Linked DNA regions of Homo sapiens. The protein of the gene in region 2 purifies or fractionates together with the protein of the main gene of each other region. This does not show direct contact. Each region holds a gene or a part of one and is shown on either strand. Other genes may lie near its edges.

Region 1 (4,761 bases), on a different chromosome or scaffold from region 2:
TGGTCAGAGCAGAAGTCAGGCTGTTGCCGTAGCCAGGGCCAAGAGGAGCTGGGATGTGATGTCCTAGACAAAGGGTAGGGCTGGTCAGGGATCCCCTGTGAGAGGGAGCGTTTCCCAGGGCAAGCTGCTTTGAAAAAGAATCAGAGCCTCCTGGCTGCTTTTGGTTCCTAAATACATTTTTTTTCAGGAGTATGTTGAGTTGAATAACTGAGATTTTGGGCATATTACCAATGCTGCATCTGCCACTGGAATGCTGGGCTACTTTAAAAGGAGTTCCACAGAGATGGAATTAACAGCTGGGCTAAAAAAATCTGTTTTTCACATCCTTTGCCCTGCTGCACCAAACCTGCCCAAACATGTGACTCAGCTATTTTGCAGACCTAATGGCATCTCCAAGCAGCTCACCACAGTGATGAGTTCCTGGCCCACCTGCTCTTTTGTAAGGAGCAGGATGGTCTGTGCCTCATTGTTCTAAGAATTCCTCGAGTGAGATGTGGCTACTTGTGGAGATCCCACCATTGACATGCATGTCCCCAGTTAAGATGACCCAGATAAATGCTCTGACCTGGTTACCACCTTGTGGCAAGCCCTTGGATGCTGGTCATCTTCAGTCACTTCTTTGGGACTGCTGTCCAATAAATGTCACCACCTTTGTCCTCAATGCTGGCAGTTTTGTAAAGAAGCCAAGATTGGAGGCTTTCTATGCCTGGGGTGAGGCAAATTGATTAATAACTGTGGGAGGAGGGTGGAGGGTGCATAAGCCATCTGTCATTGCTAACCGCCTCCTGTGGACAATAGGACCATGATTTCCAAGTGTCCTTCACTAACTTAAGCTGGGGGGGAAAAAAACTATAAAGGCTACAGATATAAATCTGAATGGCATATTGTACATGTAGAAATTTGTGGTGTTCACTTTTTATCAGAACTAAATCCGGATTCTGGGGCTGGAGGACAGATAAAGCAGAAGTTGTTAATGGTTACGAAGCAAAGGTAAAAGGAAACTCTTAAAATAAGATTTAATATAGCTATTTAGCTTCTATGCAAATGAGGAATCTGTTCCCATTTTTTTCATGCATCTGTGCCATGGAGATGCTCTGGGGAATGAGAACTGTCTAATGTGTCTCTCACTTGGATGTTTGATTTTGTCTTATTTGACTTTCAGAAAATGGGATAGCATGCCCTGAGGAGGTCTGTAGCTATGCTAAAGAGAAACAATATGGTAGAGAAATGAGTACAGGTACCAGTTGTTCTGGTAGGAATGACAAGCTAGTCATTCCCTTAATTATTTAAAAAAAAAAAAGGAAGAGGAAGGATTAGACTTCACATGTGTTCAAATGTTGTGTAGTAGCTTTTGAGTCTCTTTTTTGTTAAATCAGCTTAATTGTAATCAGCAGGCGCACAGCCCATTTGCATGACATCAGTGCATTTAAAACATAGTTGTAATAGTGGAGACGATTGTTGATCCAGTCATCTGGCATTTTGTCAGCTGGAAAGCTGTTTCCTGGCCTTTCAGTCCCTCAGTACAACAGGGATTGATGGCTTTTGGTGTTGGAGCCCAGTGCTGCAGGGTCCTCTGGTGGCCTCTGAGTGAGCAAAGAAAGGCTTACGTCATGCTCAGCAAGATACATTTAGAAGCACTTGTCATAGTGCTGAGTGTGTTTTCTGCAGCTTTGAATGTTGGGGCTCCTCACGTGGCATATAGAGAGAATTCTTTGTTAACTGTTATGTTTGATTTTCTAGACCACCATATTCCCCAGTTATCCTTGATAACAGAGCATTTGCTCTGGCAGTTACAATAATTTTTGTCAGTGCACAGAATGCCTTTTAAATAGTGACTTGCTGGTTTTCTCTACAGCTCATAAGTCTATAGAGAACCTTGTGTTCATACCTTTCTCTTCTGCCCAGCAGATGGCTGTCTGAGTCATACTAGTATTACAAGACTACCAGCGGAGGCTGGGTGCAGTGGCTCACGCCTGTAATCCCAGCACTTTGGGAGGCCCAAGTAGGCAGATCACTTGAGGCCAGGATTTTGAGACCAGCCTGGCCAACATGGTGAAACCCCGTCTCTACTAAAAATACGAAAATTAACCAGTCATAGTAGCACATGCCTGTAATCCCAGCTACTCTGGAGGCTGAGGCACGAGAATCGCTTGAACCCAGGAGGCGGAGGCTGCAGTGAGCAGAGATCACGCCACTGCACTCCAGCCTGGGCAACAGAGGGAGACTCTGTCTCAAAAAAAAAAAAAAAAAAAATTACCAACAGAAGTACAGGATCCTGGTTTGGGTACCTTAGTTTAATAGAAACCCAGGTGGAAACCTAGATTGCAGGGCATTTGTTTGAGACTATTTAGCCACAGCAGGGCAAGCAGGAAGATGCAGCCTGTCACTGCTAACTCCTTAGTATTAAAACTGTCAAACATGGGAGGTAACTGCTGATGCATTTTTCAGTTGATAGTTTATATACTTTCTCTGAAGGATCCTAATGATAGTTAACCATTTCTCATTTTTATTTTGCTGGATTGTTTTCTGTTTTTTGCTTCAGCATTCTTGCTTTTGCTGTGCTTACTTTTGGAGTTTTGATTCCCTGTGTCACTGTTTTCTTTCGCATACACCTCTCAGGTTTACACAGTAAACAATGTGAATGTGATCACCAAAATACGCACAGAACATCTGACCGAGGAGGAAAAAAAGAGATATAAAGGTAATCACCACCACCCTCCCACCTCCTGTTTTGTTGTTATTTTTTAAGCCTAGAGGGAACTCTTTGTTGGCTCTGTTAAGTTTAGGGTTAATGTGATTGGGTTGTGTTAAGCCTAACCCTAACTTCTTCTCTCTCTCTCTCTTTTTTTTTTTTTTTGAGGCAAAGTCTCGCCCTGTCACCCAGGCTGGAGTGCAGTGGCACGACCTTGGCTCACTGCAACCTCTGCCTCCTGGGTTCAAGTGATTCTCCTGCCTCAGCCTCCTGAGTAGCTGGGATTACAAGCACCCACCACCACGCCCGGCTAATTTTTTGTATTTTCAGTAGAGACGGGGTTTCACCATGTTGGCCAGGCTGGTCTCGAACTCCTGACATCAGGTGATCCTCACCCACCTCGGCCTCCGAAAGTGCTGAGATTACAGGCGTGAGCCACCGTGCCTGGCCCCTAACTTCTTTTTTATAAAAATTTCTGGCCAGGCACGGTGGCTCATGCTTGTAATCCCAACACTTTGGGAGGCCAATGTGGGCGAGTCACCTGAGGTCGGGAATTCAAGACCAGCCTGACCAACATGGAGAAACCCCATCTGTGCTAAAAAAAAATACAAAATTAGCTGGGTGTGGTGGCCCATGGCTGTAATCCCAGCTACTCAGGAGGCTGAGGCAGGAGAATCACTTGAACCTGGCAGGCGGAGGTTTTGGTGAGCTGAGATCGTGCCATTGCACTCCAGCCTGGACAACAAGAGTGAAACTCCATCTCAAAAAAAAAAAAAAAATTTCCTGGCTGAGCACGGTGGCTCACACCTGTAATCCCAACACTTTGGGAGGCCAAGGTGGGCAGATCACTTGAGGCCAGGAGTTTGAGACCAGCCTGGCCAATATGGTGAAACCCTATCTTTACTAAAAATACAAAAATTAACCAGGCGTGGTGGCGCACTCCTGTAGTCTCAGCTACTGGGGAGGCTGAGGCAGGAGAATCGCTTGAACCCCAGAGGTGGAGGTTGCTGTGAGCCAAGATTGTCCCACTGCACTCCAGCCTGGGTGACAGAGCTAGACTCTGTCTCAAAAAAAAGAAAAAGGAAAGAAAATTTCCTTAGTCTGACTCATTCTTGGAGGTGTTTCCCCATAGTTGGCCTCAGCTGTAATTAAAGCTATTCGTGAGGGCTTGTTTATGTGTTATCAAGAACAATTGTTGAATTCAGCCAAAAAAGGAGATAAGGACATTTGAGAATATTTATCATTGGAATGAGTGATTTAGTCCAAACTATTGTGATGAAAGATTTAGACAGAACTTGGGGTCCAAGCAAAAACATTGCATGTGGTTGCCACATCCCAGCCCCATCCCAGCCCCACCAGTTCTATGGCCTTGTGAAATTACTTCTGCTCTGTGCCTTAGTTCCTCAGCAGTGAAATGCAGGTGATACCCAACCTTCCTTAGAGTTATTGAGAGGATTAGATGAGTTACGACGTGGAAGCCTTTAGAATGGCGCCTGCAGTATGTGGTAAGCATGCAGTAATTGTTCACCAGCACCACCACCACCATTGCCATTACTCCACTTTGACAGATGAGGGAACTGAGGCCCAGAACACATGGGTAGCGAGTGGCCAAGGTGGGGTTGGAATCCAGGTCTGGCTCACTCCAAAATCCAGACTCTTCCCATTATTCTGCTTTAATTCTTACAACTGTTTATCTAGTTTAGAGATCCTCATGAAAAGCACCCTATAAAGGATAAATTAGTTTATGGTTATTGTGAATGATTTGATCAGCCAGTCTGTAATTGCATTTCCTAATGAGGTAGCTTGGACCAGAAACTTTAATGAAGATCTTTTTTTTATAGCCACAAGTGAGATATAATATTAGACTTTAAACTCCCTACCCCTCTGTAGCAGACAGGAACCCGCTGGAATCTTTGCTGGGAACTGTGGAACACCAATTTGGTGCACAAGGGGTAAGTTGAAGCAATGAGCTTTCATTGCAGTTAGATGAAAGGAAACAACTTGTCTGTGTCTGGGATGGCATTTACTGGATCCTGAACAGCCCACTCTATGTAAAGGCCAAAGATACC
Region 2 (5,110 bases):
GAACATCATTTTCTAATGTGCTCATGGAGCCCTGGGGTGGGTCTCTACAAACAGGCCCTCACAGGAGGCTCCCCAACAATGCACAGGCTCCTAATGAGGCTGCGCTCCACAGAGGGGACAGGAGGAGCATCCAACCCCAGCTGCTGACTGGAGGGTGCTGAGCCGCCGCCAGGGCCTGGACTCCCAGGGCCTCGGGTGCTGCAGGAGAAAGGCCTCGGACATTGGTGCTGAGAAAGGAAGAGGTGCTTAGGGGCTTGCAGGGGCCCTGATAACTGGAAAGAAGCCATGAGGATGGCAGCATCTGCCCAGACACACTCATCCTCCCCAGCCGCCTTGCCCTGGAGCACAGGCCTGCACAGCAGCACAGGGAGCCCAGGAGACAGAGGACTGCCAGGCTCTGCCAGGGGGCACAGGGCCCTCCCTGCCATGCTGACCAGCCAGCCGTGCCTTCCCAGCCCCTTCCAAGCCCCTTGGGAGGGGGCTTCCTGACACAGGTGGTCACCTAGGGATGGGGAAGGCGGGGAACTTGGAACTGCCCTCGCCAACTGCACATGGGCCAGGCCAGGCATGGGGACGGAGGAGACACAGGTCCTCATACCTGCCCCAAACACCTCCTACAGCTCCCACGCCTGACACTCCCCCATCCCAAAGGCACAATCGGCCAGCCAGACCCCTAGCCTCCCCTAGGAAGATGGAGAGAATGGCAGCGGGGTCTTGGCCTCCGCCAGGGGACTGCAGGTGCTGCTGGTGGCGGAGGCGGGGCATGGCCACTGTTTCCCCCTCCTACTCAGTGCCTGGCTCCTGCGGAGTGTCCACTGAATGGCTGGATGAGCAGAGGAGGCAGGAGTCACTGGGGAAACTGTTCCCAAGGCAGAGTCCCAGACCAGACCCCAAACTCGTACTGCTGGGAAGAGCTCTCCGCTCTGTGGATGCCTCAGAGCCAGCCTAGAGAGACCCCCTCATGGTAACAGGCAGCCTCTTTTACAGTGAAGTGCCCCTGGGTCCGGCAGTGCTCAGCACCTGGTGGGTCCGGCAGTGCTCAGCACCTGGTGGGGCCGGCTCCTCCGCCTCAGCACCGCTCACATCCACTCAGATGAGTCTTTGTTGCGGGACTGCCTGTGCACTGTAGGACGCACTGTACAGATGAGTCTTTGTTGCAGGGCCGCCCGCGTACTGTAGGACACATTGTAGGATTCCCCCTTATGATGCCAGACACTGCAAATGTCCCCTAGACATTTGGCAGAATCAGCCCTGATCGAGACTCCTGAGCTGAGTGTAAATGAATCAGATCGCTCCCCTAATACTGTATACGGGGAACAGGCATTTCTTAAAAGAAGTTAGAAGTAGGGAATTAGGAGGCAGGAAGCCTGGCTGCGTGGGGGCATTCCTGGGTGGAGAGGACCTGGGTTAGGGGACCCTCAGGGCAGAGAGAGGGAAATGGATAGCATGGCCACACCCATAGTATTAGCAAGGCCTGAGTCTGTGTCCAGGAGAGAATGGAGGTTTCTTCCTCATCAGCTGCCACTCTTTTCTCTTTTGGGGAACCATCAACTGGGCTAATACACCAGATCGGGAAGTGGAGCAAGGGCCTGGGCCGAGCTGCCTCTGGTCATCGTGCTGGAATGCATCTTGTGTTTTATGAAACATCACACAGAGTCCTTTGCTAAGCTACGCTGAAGCCGTAGGAGGAACAGCCACACCTCGAGGAGGGACAGCTCCCAGTTCCAGGTTACTCAGAAAAAAAGGAGAAATAGCTCGGTGCAGCCGGATCTCTGCAAGCCCCAGCTCAGCTCCAGAACGGAGCTCTCAGGGGGAACACTGTATGTGCACATTAACAAAACGAGGCCCAGACAGGGATGTGGACCACTGTGTGGACACAATTCACTGGCTGCCGAATGTCTTCACCTGCCACGCAGTGTGCAGCCCTGAAGGGACCTCTGAACATCGCTCTGTCACCTTCCTGATTTCAGGGAAGGGAGGCTCTGCAGGTGGGGCAGCCAGCGCTTCCCGGGAAAGGGCATCACACAAATCTGCCGCCACATGACACAGAAGACACTTTTTTGACACTTTTTGCTTTTCTGCTGGGCCTCTTGGTTGGTAAGGGTGTGGCCAGTGTGCTGGTGTTCAGGACACAAGGTGCTATGAACAGGGACAGCAAGCGGGGCTGGGTCTGCACCAGGAACAGAGCAAGGAGCTGCCTGACCCACACTAGGGAGAGAGAAGCCAACACCAGGGCAAGTCTGGGAGGAAGACTGGGGAGCGCCCAGGCAGGGGACAGAAAACTCCCTGTGTGCCTGCGCACAGAGACCCCAAGCGTTCTGGAGCTCCTGGAGAGAAGGCCAAGGAAGGCTGTGCTTGTTTCCACCAAGTCCAGGGGTGGCGTTCACAGCCCGTAATACATTAAGGCAAAGCAGCGATGTCTGAGCCTTCTGCGGTTCTGAAACTGCTGCTGTGATGAGATTTTCTCCCTGTCCTCTCTCAAAACACAGGTGAATCCCATACACTGTGTGTTTAGAACTTCAGAAGAATTAGTCCTCCCTCTGTCCAACAATCTACAGGCATCAGGATGCCAAAGTGTTCAGTGCGTCTGGATGGCGCAGCTCTGTGGACACCAGACAAAGGACCCCAGGATGCTGTGGAGGCTCGAGGAAAGTAACACAACAGGGCCAGAGGGGCTTGTGGACTGAACTGGGCATCCAGAGAGAGGACAGAAGGGGCAAGAGAGGATGCAGGGGGCAAGAGGAGGAAACGGCTGTCAAGGGTGCACGTCTTCCCCTGGCATCCCATCTCCTCCCCGAGGCTGCCCCGTCTAGCCCTCACCATGGTCTGAAGATAGCACTCGGTAGCACCCACCCCTTCCTTCTCCCCACTACCTGCAGGAGCTGCAGAGCAGACAGCAAACCTCAGCTCTGCCCATATGGATGGCTGCACCAATGATCCTAGTGAAGTGTGAGCCTGCACTCCTGAGAGGGGTCCCAGGGCCAGCGGCCACCCCAGGAAACCCACCTGGACAGCTGCACCCCATACCCTGGACAGGCTCTGTAAGTCAGGGTGGGAGCCGGAACTGCACAGCCCTGTTCCTGAAGAGGGATGCTCCGTAAGGACCGGCTCCTGTGCTCAGCATACCGCAGGGCTCCACACTGTGGAGACTCGGCCTCGCTGCCCATCACGGAAGCCAAGGATTTATACGCTCGCTGAACTCACCGCTCCTAACCCTCTGGCTGGAAGCCATCAAAACCACAGCCTGTAAAACAGGCTTGGGACAGCAGCCCCTGGTCTCTCAAGTTTGATCATAGTGCAGTTTGGCTTGAGGGTCCACCGCCGACAACCCCACCCTCCACAACCCCACCCTCCACAACCCACCGCCGACAACCCTACCGCCGACAAGCCCACCGCTGACAAGCCCACCGCCAACAACCCCACCGCCGATCCCCAGGAAGCTCCCGAGGCCTTAAGCTCCAGGCGTCCTCCAGCTCATGGCACCCATGTGCTGCCGGCACGTTTAGTGACGATGAGCGCGTGATTTGTCCCCGCAGCACCTCCAGGACCCAGCTCAGGACAGGATTTTACAACACAATGAATCTCACAAGTGCACTGCCAAGCCAGAGGAGCCAGGCACGAGGGACCACCCAGGGCCGGTCCCGTTCGTGCACAGCTCAGAAGCTGGCAAAGCCACGTCGGGCAGCAAAGATCCAGGGGAGACCTGGGAGGGGTCACGCAGGCTTCTGGGGGGACTGCTGTGTCTGTATGTTCACTGGGTGCTGGTCACACTGGTGTGTTCAGTTTGTGGGGACTCACTAAGTGGAACACTTACGAGGTGCGCTTCGCCCCGTTTGTTACATGTCAACTGAAAGCACTCCCGGCCTCTGAACCCTGATGGGCTCCTAAGCCTCTTGCAGCTGCCTGACTCTGGAGCCGGGGCGGCCAGGGTACTCACCTGCGGCAGCCCGTCCTCCCGCCTCCGGCTCTGGTTCGGGCGGTTGATGAAGGACCGCGTGGAGACTTTGTAGTGGTTCAGCAGGCAGACGATGACCACCACCATCACCGTGACCACCACGACGATGATGATGATTTGGGCGAACTCCAGCTCCGCTGCCATGGAAGAGGAGAGTGGTTAGCCACCTGGCCCCTCCAGTCCCCACCCATTCTCCAGGCACTGTCACCACCCCAGCCATCAGGCCCTGAAGGCCTCTCACACACGTCTGTTCCTCAGAGGCCAGCAGGACACAGAAACGACTGTCCCACTTTAGGGAAGGAGACACCACGGCACAGTCGGGAGGCTGTGCAAACCAGCTGCGGGGAGCGGGAAGCCTCTGCCATCCCCCACCACAGGGAGCTGAGAACGTCTCCACAAACTGAAGCTATTTCTCCAATGTCACCGCTCTAGAAAAGTTAAACCCGTCTTTATGGTTGAGTGGAGTTTCTCAAAGCAATTCCCCTAGGGACCCATACTTGAAAGGAAAAATCAACTTCAGCCCCTTGCCTCCAAGGCTGTGGCTCTGCAGGTGAGTTAGGAAACATCCACATTGTTTCCAGGCCTTCAGGCACAGCACTTTAGGAGTGGTCAGGTCTCCCCTGGGTTTCTGACACCACCACCCCAAAGATTCCTTAAATGCCATTGACACACACTTCACATGTGAGTCCAGCAACACAGAGTGACTTCCAGTCACAGCACATTGGGCCGGCAGCTGGAAGCAGGTGAGCCAGACCCCCGTTTTGGGAGAGGAAGCAGGTCGAGGGCTCACGGGCGGCCTGGAGCCACTTTCTGCTCCCCTCTTCCAGCCCATGGCTCTGCTGCCTGCTTCACTCCTTGTCCCCCGTGCTGGAAGGAAGTGACTGACCGTGCAGTGATGTAAATTCAGAGCAAGGGGCTCGGGGATGCTAAGAGGAAGACAGTGCAGGAATCTGGGGGAGGCAGGAGTAAGAAGAGAGAAGCCATCAACTGTGCTGCCCTGGGCTCACAGCACACATGCACACACATGCATGCACGTACATGTGCCGCAGCAGGGCTCAGGCCCCGGCCAGTGGGGAGGCATATCTGTCAAGTGTATCCGCTCATACGTGGGGCGATGCAGGCAGAGATCAGGTGGTGCCTCCCCAGTGGCTACGA
Region 3 (4,761 bases), on a different chromosome or scaffold from region 2:
AACTAAAATAATTGTTGATTATAGAATGATTCTCCTATGAACGTGTGCTACGTGGTTTGAATTCAGTCAGGATTTATAGAAAATGTTATTTTGTAATAATTCAGAAAATGTTTTAAGCGTTTGTGAATATGTATATGAAATTCACATACTCACCTTTAACATTGTTATATAAATTTAGGACAGAAAAGTTCTAAGCATCTCATGACGATCTTAGGAAATTATATGAAATGAATGATAGGCTGACATTTGCAATAGGAAGAACTCAGTTCTTAGCATAGCTTTCTACCAGAATGGGGATCTTCTTTATTTCTTTGGGCTTCACTCTCTTGAAACAACTGTAAGTTACTGGAACATAAAAATAATTTTCGTAACCTTTTTTCTCCAAGCTAACAATGAGCCTTTGAGAGTTCATATTCTGCCTAGACCCCTGCATAGAGTTTGAATATGTGAAAGTTGCAGAGGCTTTGTGCTGTAGAGTGTTGGGAGAGCTCCCTGGATTTGCATAGCTCTAACAGTCTCATGTTTGGGTAGGCAGAGCACTGTTTTACCCACACAAGAAGGGATATGAAGGCAAATTCAGGATGTATGGCAATAAACTTTGCACACTAAACAAAATCAGCAGACATTGAACTGACTTCAAGTCACTTACGAGCAATCAGACTGAGAGTTGGGGTGCAGAAGAGGGTGTGCTGGATTTCCCCATCTGGACCTTGACTTGCCATTTATTGTGTCTGTCACAGCAGGAGTTGAGTGGGAGGAAGCTACGAAAGTGACTCTCTCATCTGTTTTCCCCACTCATTAAAACAACACTCTCCATCTAGTACAAGATCTAAGCCAGGCTGATGACACACTGTCAGGAAACCTTGGACAGGTCCACTCTGCTTCAACCTTGACACAAAACAAAAGCTGTGCTTTCTGTCCTGACAGGGAAGCAAATGGGGAGTTCAGATAGGAGAGGAAAGTGAAGAATGACTAATATTTATCTAGTGTTTACATTTAGAGTAGGAAGTTTCTTGACAAAGCTTTCTGCCTGGTTTGGGACCTTCCTTATTTCCTTGGCCTTCACTCTCCATTTCAGTTATGATCAGCCTGAAACCCCTGTAGATTGCTGGGACGTGAAAGTATGTTGGAATGGGGGAAGCAGATGGGGAACTCAGTTAGGAGAGGAAGGGGAAGAGGGACCAATATTTATCTAGTGCTTAATCTGTGCCTGGCAATTGGTGAGCACTATGTTTAAATGATCTCATTTACAAGTGGCTTAATTGTATGGCTTGATTATTCCTTAAATATTTGACACTGTGTTTAAATATAAACACTCAAATATATTTGCATGCAAGTTGTAGATTAGTTTTAAATTAACTACAGTTCTCTGCTTTCTTTTACTCCAATAATAGAGTTGACATAGAATACATGTATTTAGAAGGAAATTATTCAGATTTTCACTAATGCTATTTGCAGATGGCTGGCCTGGGGAAACCTTGGGAAACTCAGATGAGGACTAAATAGTGTTGCACAAGGCAAACAGAGCTCCCCAAGACAGCTGTTTGCCCTCTCTTTTTCCTAAAAGCTGTTGAACTCAGGAAAACTGTGGGTCGTTCTCTACTTTCTGTGTGTCTCACTCTCTGCCACCGTGGGCCCTCAGTGTTGTAACAGTTCAGCCTTGACGTGTATGAGAAAATTACAAGGTAGAAAACCCATGCCCAGCCATATGATCATAGGTGTTCCATGTGAGTAGAAACCAGTGTCAGCAAAGGTGTGCAAAAAGTGTGCACTTGAGCCCTCTTCATGGGAACACTCACTGGCAAAACATTTCTAGGGGATAGTTTGATGAAGGGAAGGTAAGAAAAAAATTGTGCAGTCCTTTGGCAGAGTGATAATGTTGCCTCTAGAGCAGGGGTCTCCAAGCCCCCGGCCATGGACCAGTACTGGTCTGTGGCCTGTTAGGAACCCAGTCTCACAGCAGGAGGTGAGCGGAGGGTGAACAAGCATTACAGCCTGAGCTCTGGCTCCTGTCAGATGAGTGGCAGCATTAGATTCTCATAGGAGTATGAACCCTATTGTGAACTGCACATGCGGGGGATCTAGGGTACGTGCTCCTTATGAGAATCTAATGCCTGATGATCTGAGGTGAAACAATTTCATCCCAAAACCATCGCCCCCACCCTCCAGCCCATGGAAAAATTGTCTTGCAGGAAACCAGTCCCTGGTGCCAAAAAGACCGGGGACCGCTGCTCTAGAGGTTTAGTTTGCAGAAGGGAGCTCTGCACAAGACTGTTTGTAGCTGCATTGCTTTATAATGGCAAAATGGGAAACAATTAAAGTATCTGTCTGTAAAGAATTGGTTAAATAGTACATATGAGAACTAGCAGCTTTTAAAAACAGTAGAATAGATCTTTATGCACTGAGATGGAAAAATGGTTCCACGTTTTATTGTTCAGTATACAGTCCCAGAATAATTCCATTTTTGTAAAAACAACTCAAGAGCATCTGCCAGGGTTTTCCAGAGGGACAGAACTAATAGGATAGATGTGGCCGGGCGCGGTGGGTCACGCCTGTAATCCCAGCACTTTGGGAGGCTGAGATGGGCAGATCATGAGGTCAGGAGATCGAGACCATCTTGGCTAACACGGTGAAACCTTATGTCTACTAAAAATACAAAAACTTAGCTGGGCGTGGTGGTGGGCACCTGTAATCCCAGCTACTCAGGAGGCAGAGGCAGGAGAATGACGTGAACCTGGGAGGTGGAGCTTGCAGTGAGCCGAGATCACACCACTGCACTCCAGCCTGGGCGACAGAGGGAAACGCCATCTCAAAAATAAAAAAAGGATAGATGTATATATGAAATGGAGTTTATTAAGGAGTACTGACTCACACGATCACAAGGTGAGGCCCCACAATAGGCCATCTGCAAGCTGAGGAACAAAGAAGCCAGTCTGAGTCCCAAAACTTCAAAAGTAGGGAAGCTGACAGTGCAGCCTTCAATCTGTGGCTGAAGGCCCAAGGTCCCCTGGCAAACCACTGGTGTAGACCCAAGAGTCCAAAAACTGAAGAACTTGGAGTCTGATGTTCAAGGGCAGGAAACATCCAGCACAGGAGAAAGATGGAGGCCAGAAGACTCAGCCAGTCTAGTCCTTCCACAATTCTTTTGCCTGCTTTTATTCTAGCCATGCTGGCAGCTGATTAGATGGTACCCACACAGATTGAGGGTGGGTCAACCTCTCCCAGTCCACTGACTCAAACATTAATCTCCCTTGGCAACACCCTCACAGACACACCCAGAAACAATACTTTGATCCTTCAATCCAATCAAGTTGACACTCAATACTGACCATCACAGCATCTATGTATATAATGATATCTGTGTCTGTATGTGTGTCTGACATTGGAGAAAGATACAGCAGATAGCAAATATTGTATGTTCTCACTTATAAGTGGGAACTAAGCTACCAGGATGCGAAGCATAATAATGGTACGGACTGTGGACTCGGGAAGCGAGGAGTGGGGTGAGGGATAAAAGACTACACATTGGGTACACTTTACACTGCTCTGGTGGTGGGTGCACCAAAATCTCAGTAACTGCCACTGAATAACTTATCCGTGTAACCAAAAACCACTTGTTTCCCAAAAGCTATTGAAATAATTTTTTTTTTTTTAAAAAGGTCCAGCAGGATATATGCTGGATTGTTTATAGAAGTCACCTCTGAGAAATGCTATTGGAGATGATGGTGACTTTCATTTCTTAAAATGTATGTAGGTCTATATTTTGATACTTTTATAATGACTGATTATTATAAATTAAAGGTGTTATTTAAAAAGGGAAAATGATGTACATACCTGCTACGGTGTTTGCCTCATGGTGGAGAGTGAGGGAGGGACTGCTACTAAACATAAGAGGGACTTGGGAATTTTTTTCTCTTATTTAAAAATAAAAAGGGATGCAATTATGACAAACATGAGCAGTTGTCAATTCTCTATAATTTTCCCATGTTTTTCTGTTTTTTAAAATTCCTCAAAAGGTAGATAGCAGCATCCAACAGTTATATCCATAAAACTGTTCTTGATTTAAGATAAATGGTACTGTTATTTTGAAGGACTTATTTAGGCAAATGTCATATGCCAATTTATAAAGATATGTTGCTTTTGAGATTTAATTATGTGTTTAAGATGTATGCTCAACACTACCAGAATTTCTTTAAATTGATTCATTCTAGAATATCGACTGTCCAATTTAAGATGTTTTGACCTACTGATTTTTTTACTTTATGACAGTGTTAAAGCCATATGCATTCAGTAGAAAGCATATTTCAAATACCCATACAACCATTCTGTTTTTCAGTGTCAGTACAGCATTCAATAAATTACATGAGATATTCAATGTTTTGTTGTAAAATAGCATTTGTATTTGATGATTTTGTCCAACTGTAAGCTAATATAAGTGTTCCTAGCATGTTTAAGGTAGGCTAGGCTAAGCCGTGATGTTGGGTAGATTAGGTGTATTAAATGCATTTTCAACTTATGATGGGTTTATTGGAACATACCCCATTGTAAGTTGAGGAGCATCTATACAATTAATGCAGCTTCCCTGTGAACTAAGCATATTTGTTCATTATAATTTTTTAAATCAATGTCATACGTTTTTCTGTGTGAATGGTGCTAGATACCTGGTCTCTCATAATCCTCACAACAAACCTATGTCATGGTTGTTTATTTCCCCATTTTACAAATGTGAAAACTAAGACCAAGGGAAGCTACCTGCCCAGA
Region 4 (4,761 bases), on a different chromosome or scaffold from region 2:
CTTGGCCTCCCAAAGTGCTGGGATTACAGGCGTGAGCCACTGCGCCTGGCCATTAGCCATTATTAGACTATTACAAGAATCTTGTGCCACAGAGATTATTCTTACCAGCTCTATTTAACATATGTAGTCAATAGCCATGTGTTGTTGTGGAGTATAATAATAGATTAGCCTCAAGAAAACTATAAATTAACAAACTAAGTGACCTGCTCAGAATGACACAGCCCACACATGGCAGAGCTAAGACTGGAACTCCAGTCATCAACTCCTTTGCACACTCACACATTTCACACTTTAACACACTGTCTCCTTCAGGCATGGAGATTTGAGAAGTCCCACGGATCAGCATCAAGAACAGATTTCAATCTCTACAGAGCGACAGTATCTCCAGGAATCTTTCAAGATTCACCAAACAAAATTCATTTCCATTCGTCTTCATATTCCACGAAAACACACCAAAGCTGCCTTAGGGAGAGGGTGTCGCCCCATCAGAGGTGTCAAGGACCATGCAAGGCCAGGGGTCACACTGGCCTCAACAATGTTTCAGACAAAAACGGCTCCCTTGGGAGGCTCCGAGGCTGTCATCGATTTGCTAAAGGTCAGTACGGATCATTTGGGAATGGATTTGTGTAGGCATGGCCTAAGACACATGGACTTCTGCCAAGCCTATATATTTTTTTCAAAACATCTGCACTGTCTTCACCCTTGATAAATAGCAGCCAGGCTACAGAAATATTTCCATTACGCACAAAAGCCTGCTTTGCCACCACAACTCATTGAAATGGATGTTTCCAACTTGAGAAGAACTCTTCAATGAAAACATCTAAAAACACCCCAATCTTCCAGCAGAGGCAACCAATCTAGCATTCAGGAAACCTTTAAACACTAGTAAATAATATTTGTGGAAACAAATTCTTTGGTAGACATATGCCCCCATGCCCAAAGTCTAACTATATCTAATAAATAGGTTAAGCCCATTTCTTCTAGCTGTATTATGAACATTCATGCAAAGACATCCGCATAAACATTTTTGTAAAGGTTTTCCCATATTTCCAGAATGTGGTGAAATCTCCTTATGGCCATGCTGAAAAGAATTGGAATAAAAAGAATTTAACATTGTAGCCCTGGCTTTACCACTAAGTAGCTGTGTGATTTCACAAAATGAAAATAATAACAATAACAGCAGCAGCTAACATTTAATGAGGACTTACAATATGCAAAACATTGTGCTAGGGGCTTAATAAGTATTTGGTAGTAATTAACAATCATTATGTAATATTTTGGCCGGGCGTGGTGGCTCATACCTATAATCCCAGCACTTTGGGAGGCTGAGGTGGGCGGATCAGTTGAGGTCAGGAGTTCAAGACCAGCCTGGCCAACATGGTGAAACACTGTCTCTACTAAAAATACAAAAATTAGCTGGGCATGGGGTAATGGAGGGCGCCTGTAATCCCAGCTACTCAGGAGGCTGAGACAGGAGAATTACTTGAACCCGGGCGGGTGGAGGCTGTGGGTGACAGAGCAAGACTCCACCTCAAAAATAAAAAATAAAAAAAAAACACCAAAAAACCATTTGGTAATATTATTACTCCCACTGTATGGATCAGGAAACTAAGACTCAGAGAGATTGAGTAACTTGCCCCAAGAACACAGCAGCAACTAGCAGAGGCTGGGATGAAGCACAGGCATTCTGATTCAGTATTCTTAATTACATACCATTGGTCTTTTCAAAGCACTTAACGACCCACAACCTCAGATTCCTCCAGGAGCCAACCAAGCAAGCAGTCTTCAGAATCCTTTCCAGCTGTAAAATTCAGTGATTCTCTCTTTTCAAAATAAAATGAATTTATAACTTTGAGAAATAAAATGTAATGATGCTCTAGTACTGCTGAGGGAAGGAAACATCTGTGTATGCCTCACCCAGAACCAGTCAGGGGAGGAAAACTGCTGATTTTCTAGGGTAATGATGTCCTGTGAACCAACCAGACTGGCCTCAAGCCGTCTCAGGAAAAATGACAGCTTGAAGTTCTCAAAGGATCCACCAACATGCAAAGGTCTGCAAGTTCGCAACTATCAGTTCTCAAACTTTAATTTGACTTTTTTTTTTTTAAAGGAAACTCATATGCAAGAAAATGCTGCACCGTAGAGGCTGATCTTAAGAATGCCAGTACAAGATGTATGTTGACTCTGTGGCATGCTCACACTTGCTTTCCTTTCAGGTGTACACCTGCTCAGGGAAAATCCACCCGGCCCAGGCAATCTGTTTTAAGACTTCCCTAGCTCGAGGCTCAGTGGTCCTGTAATTGGGTGGGGGTTTTGTCCTTTGCACATCTGATATCTTCATACGCTCCCTCCTGCTCATCATCACCAGCCCGGTCTCTGGACACACAAACACGCAAGTGCTGCCTTCCCCAACTCCATCTCGGACGCATCTTCTTCCTCTCTCTGCTCAACACAGGAGTTCCCTGTTCACACACCTTGCCATTGGCTGACACAGCCAATGGTGAAACTCCCCCAGCTGACCCTCCCTGGAGCTCACTAGCTCTCTCCCAGCTGTGGGTACAGCCTGAAACCGAAACTAATCTCAGACCAGAGCAAAGTGAAATCATTTCAGGAGCCTGATCACCCTACATGACCACAGAGAGGCTTCCCCTTAACAGAGCTCCAAATCCAGCTTGCTGGTCACCAGGAGAAAAAAAAAAAAAAAAAGCTTTGCAGTGCCCTCCTAACATCAAATACTTTCTTAATGAATAGGGAATCATGGGATTAGAGGAGGAAGCAAAAGTTCTTGCCGTCGTGTTTGCTGCTGCTACTTCTCTCTTATTTGCACAAGTCTATTTCAGTTCACCCCGTGAGCTAAAGTTCACCACCCGGTATTATTTTTAAACTCATTGTCCAGCATCCGTTCATATTTGGTTCACTCTTAATCAGATTATCTTCCAAGAGCAAGCTTTGTTCTCTTCTGAGATCCCTGTAACCATCTTGCTGTAATGTGGCTGAGACTGTTATACTACATGTTTTTCGTAAATTTGAAAAACGAAGCGTTTTACTTTTGTGCTCGAGCCAGGCACGGTGGCTCACACCTGTAATCCCAGTACTTTGGGAGGCTAAGGCGAGTGGATCTCTTGAGCTCAGGAGTTCGAGACCAGCCAGGCCAACATGGTGAAACTCCATCTTTACTAAAAACACAAAAAAATTAGCTGTTTGTGATGGCGTATGTCTGTAATCCCAGCTTCTCGGGAGGCTGAGACACAAGAATCATTTGAAACTGGGAGGCAGAGGTTGCAGTGAGCTGAGATCACACCACACTGCACTCCAGCCTGGGTGAAAGAGCAAGACCCTGTCTCATAAATAAATAAATAATAAAAAATAAAAACACTTTTGTGCTTGGAACAATACAAAAGAAAAAAAGCAAAAGCCATTATGACTGAACATAATGTCAGGCCTTGATGATCCTTCAAAGAAGTATAAATGTTGAGAAGGATCCTAAACTGTGTTTTCTCTTCTTACCCTTGCCCCCAGCATACTTGTGGGCAGCTTTCTTTGTGGCTAGGCAGTATTATGAAAAAAAGCCTACTGTCAGCTTAAGCAAAACAGAATAAGAAGGGTTAAGTGCACTGGCCTAACAAGGGTATGGTCAAAGAGAAATTAAGTCTTGGATTATCTGTTATTTACTCATTCATCCAACAAAGTTTACTGAGGGCCTCATATATATGCCTAAAACTCTTCTAGGTGCATCTAGGAGATAACCCACTAGCTCCAACTGAGAGTGCCATTCTCAGAAACACTGTGTGTATGGGGGCTGATGCTTTCTGTATTCCAATACCAAGACAAATGCTCCACTACTTCCAGGTTTCCTGAGCTCTCCTCACACGGCTTGGACTCCATCCCCGAGAGCTGTAGGTCCCTCCCAGTGAGCACCCCCGGGTGATGCTGACCAGGAACATTGCGGGCCAGGGTCACCTGGCCCAGAGCTGTTGGGCAGACTCTGTTTGTGCCTTGGCTCACTCATTCATGGATGAGCTGCTCAGTGTTATCGGGCATTCTTCAATCACTCCAACAGTCAAAGGAGGGGTTAGGCCAAATTTAAGTAATCTTCTAGCTCAAAAATTCCAGCTCCTTTTATCCTCCGATCACCGAGCTGACATGGACCTCTAGGGGCCTCTACTTCATCTTCCTGTCTCCAGATGAAACCTCTTAAACCACAAAGACAAATGAAACTTGTTCCCATTTCTGAAGACCTTCAGGGGAGGCCATTCCCCTCTGTGCCTATGAGTCACTTTTCTTACATCTCACATCCTATCTGGAATGTCTTCCTCATACCTTACTTGAATCCTCCCTCTGTAGTTTAAATTCATTTGCCTCTGGTTCTAAGTGCAGAGAGACAAGAGTGAATCACTGTGTTCTGAGCAATGACTCTTAAGGGACTTTTATGTCTTCTTCACCATGTTCACTGCAGGCATTACAAGAGGTGGCAGTGTTTCTCAGCTGTTAAAAACCACAAAGGCATCAGGAAAGCTGACCACACTGCCCAGTTCCTGCCTCACCCTGGCAAGGGTGCTACAGAATCCAGAAAACCTGACCCTTCTCTGAAACCCACACCGCTACTTAGCTCTACTCAGAGTTCACCAAGGGGGAGAACAATGTGCTCCCATGCCAGATCAAAAGCCCAGGAGGCAGCAGCCACTTTATCTTGTCCTCACTCAGCTCAAGCGGCCCCTCCTCCAGGAAGCCTTCCCTGCCCCAACTCCTCTTCTGGCTGGC

Evidence for each region. Proteins that work in one complex are often made in the same cells at the same time.
Region 1: the proteins of LDLRAD4 (region 2) and ANKRD13A purify together in Homo sapiens (affinity purification with mass spectrometry; 4 studies listed by BioGRID and IntAct, with this or other methods). This does not show direct contact.
Region 3: the proteins of LDLRAD4 (region 2) and DPY19L1 purify together in Homo sapiens (affinity purification with mass spectrometry; 4 studies listed by BioGRID and IntAct, with this or other methods). This does not show direct contact.
Region 4: the proteins of LDLRAD4 (region 2) and CUEDC1 purify together in Homo sapiens (affinity purification with mass spectrometry; 4 studies listed by BioGRID and IntAct, with this or other methods). This does not show direct contact.

Annotation. Positions count from the first base shown.
Region 1 is NC_000012.12:110,023,123-110,027,883, forward strand, and holds part of ANKRD13A (ankyrin repeat domain-containing protein 13A), read left to right. Parts: intron 1-923; coding exon 924-990; intron 991-2,619; coding exon 2,620-2,701; intron 2,702-4,582; coding exon 4,583-4,644; intron 4,645-4,761. UniProt on the Homo sapiens protein: Ubiquitin-binding protein that specifically recognizes and binds 'Lys-63'-linked ubiquitin. Does not bind 'Lys-48'-linked ubiquitin.
Region 2 is NC_000018.10:13,620,099-13,625,208, reverse strand, and holds part of LDLRAD4 (low-density lipoprotein receptor class A domain-containing protein 4 isoform alpha 1), read right to left. Parts: intron 4,093-5,110; coding exon 3,938-4,092; intron 1-3,937. UniProt on the Homo sapiens protein: Functions as a negative regulator of TGF-beta signaling and thereby probably plays a role in cell proliferation, differentiation, apoptosis, motility, extracellular matrix production and immunosuppression.
Region 3 is NC_000007.14:34,932,032-34,936,792, reverse strand, and holds part of DPY19L1 (protein C-mannosyl-transferase DPY19L1), read left to right. Parts: intron 1-4,761. UniProt on the Homo sapiens protein: C-mannosyltransferase that mediates the C-mannosylation tryptophan residues on target proteins.
Region 4 is NC_000017.11:57,944,459-57,949,219, forward strand, and holds part of CUEDC1 (CUE domain-containing protein 1), read right to left. Parts: intron 2,435-4,761; exon of another isoform or gene 1,714-2,434; intron 1-1,713.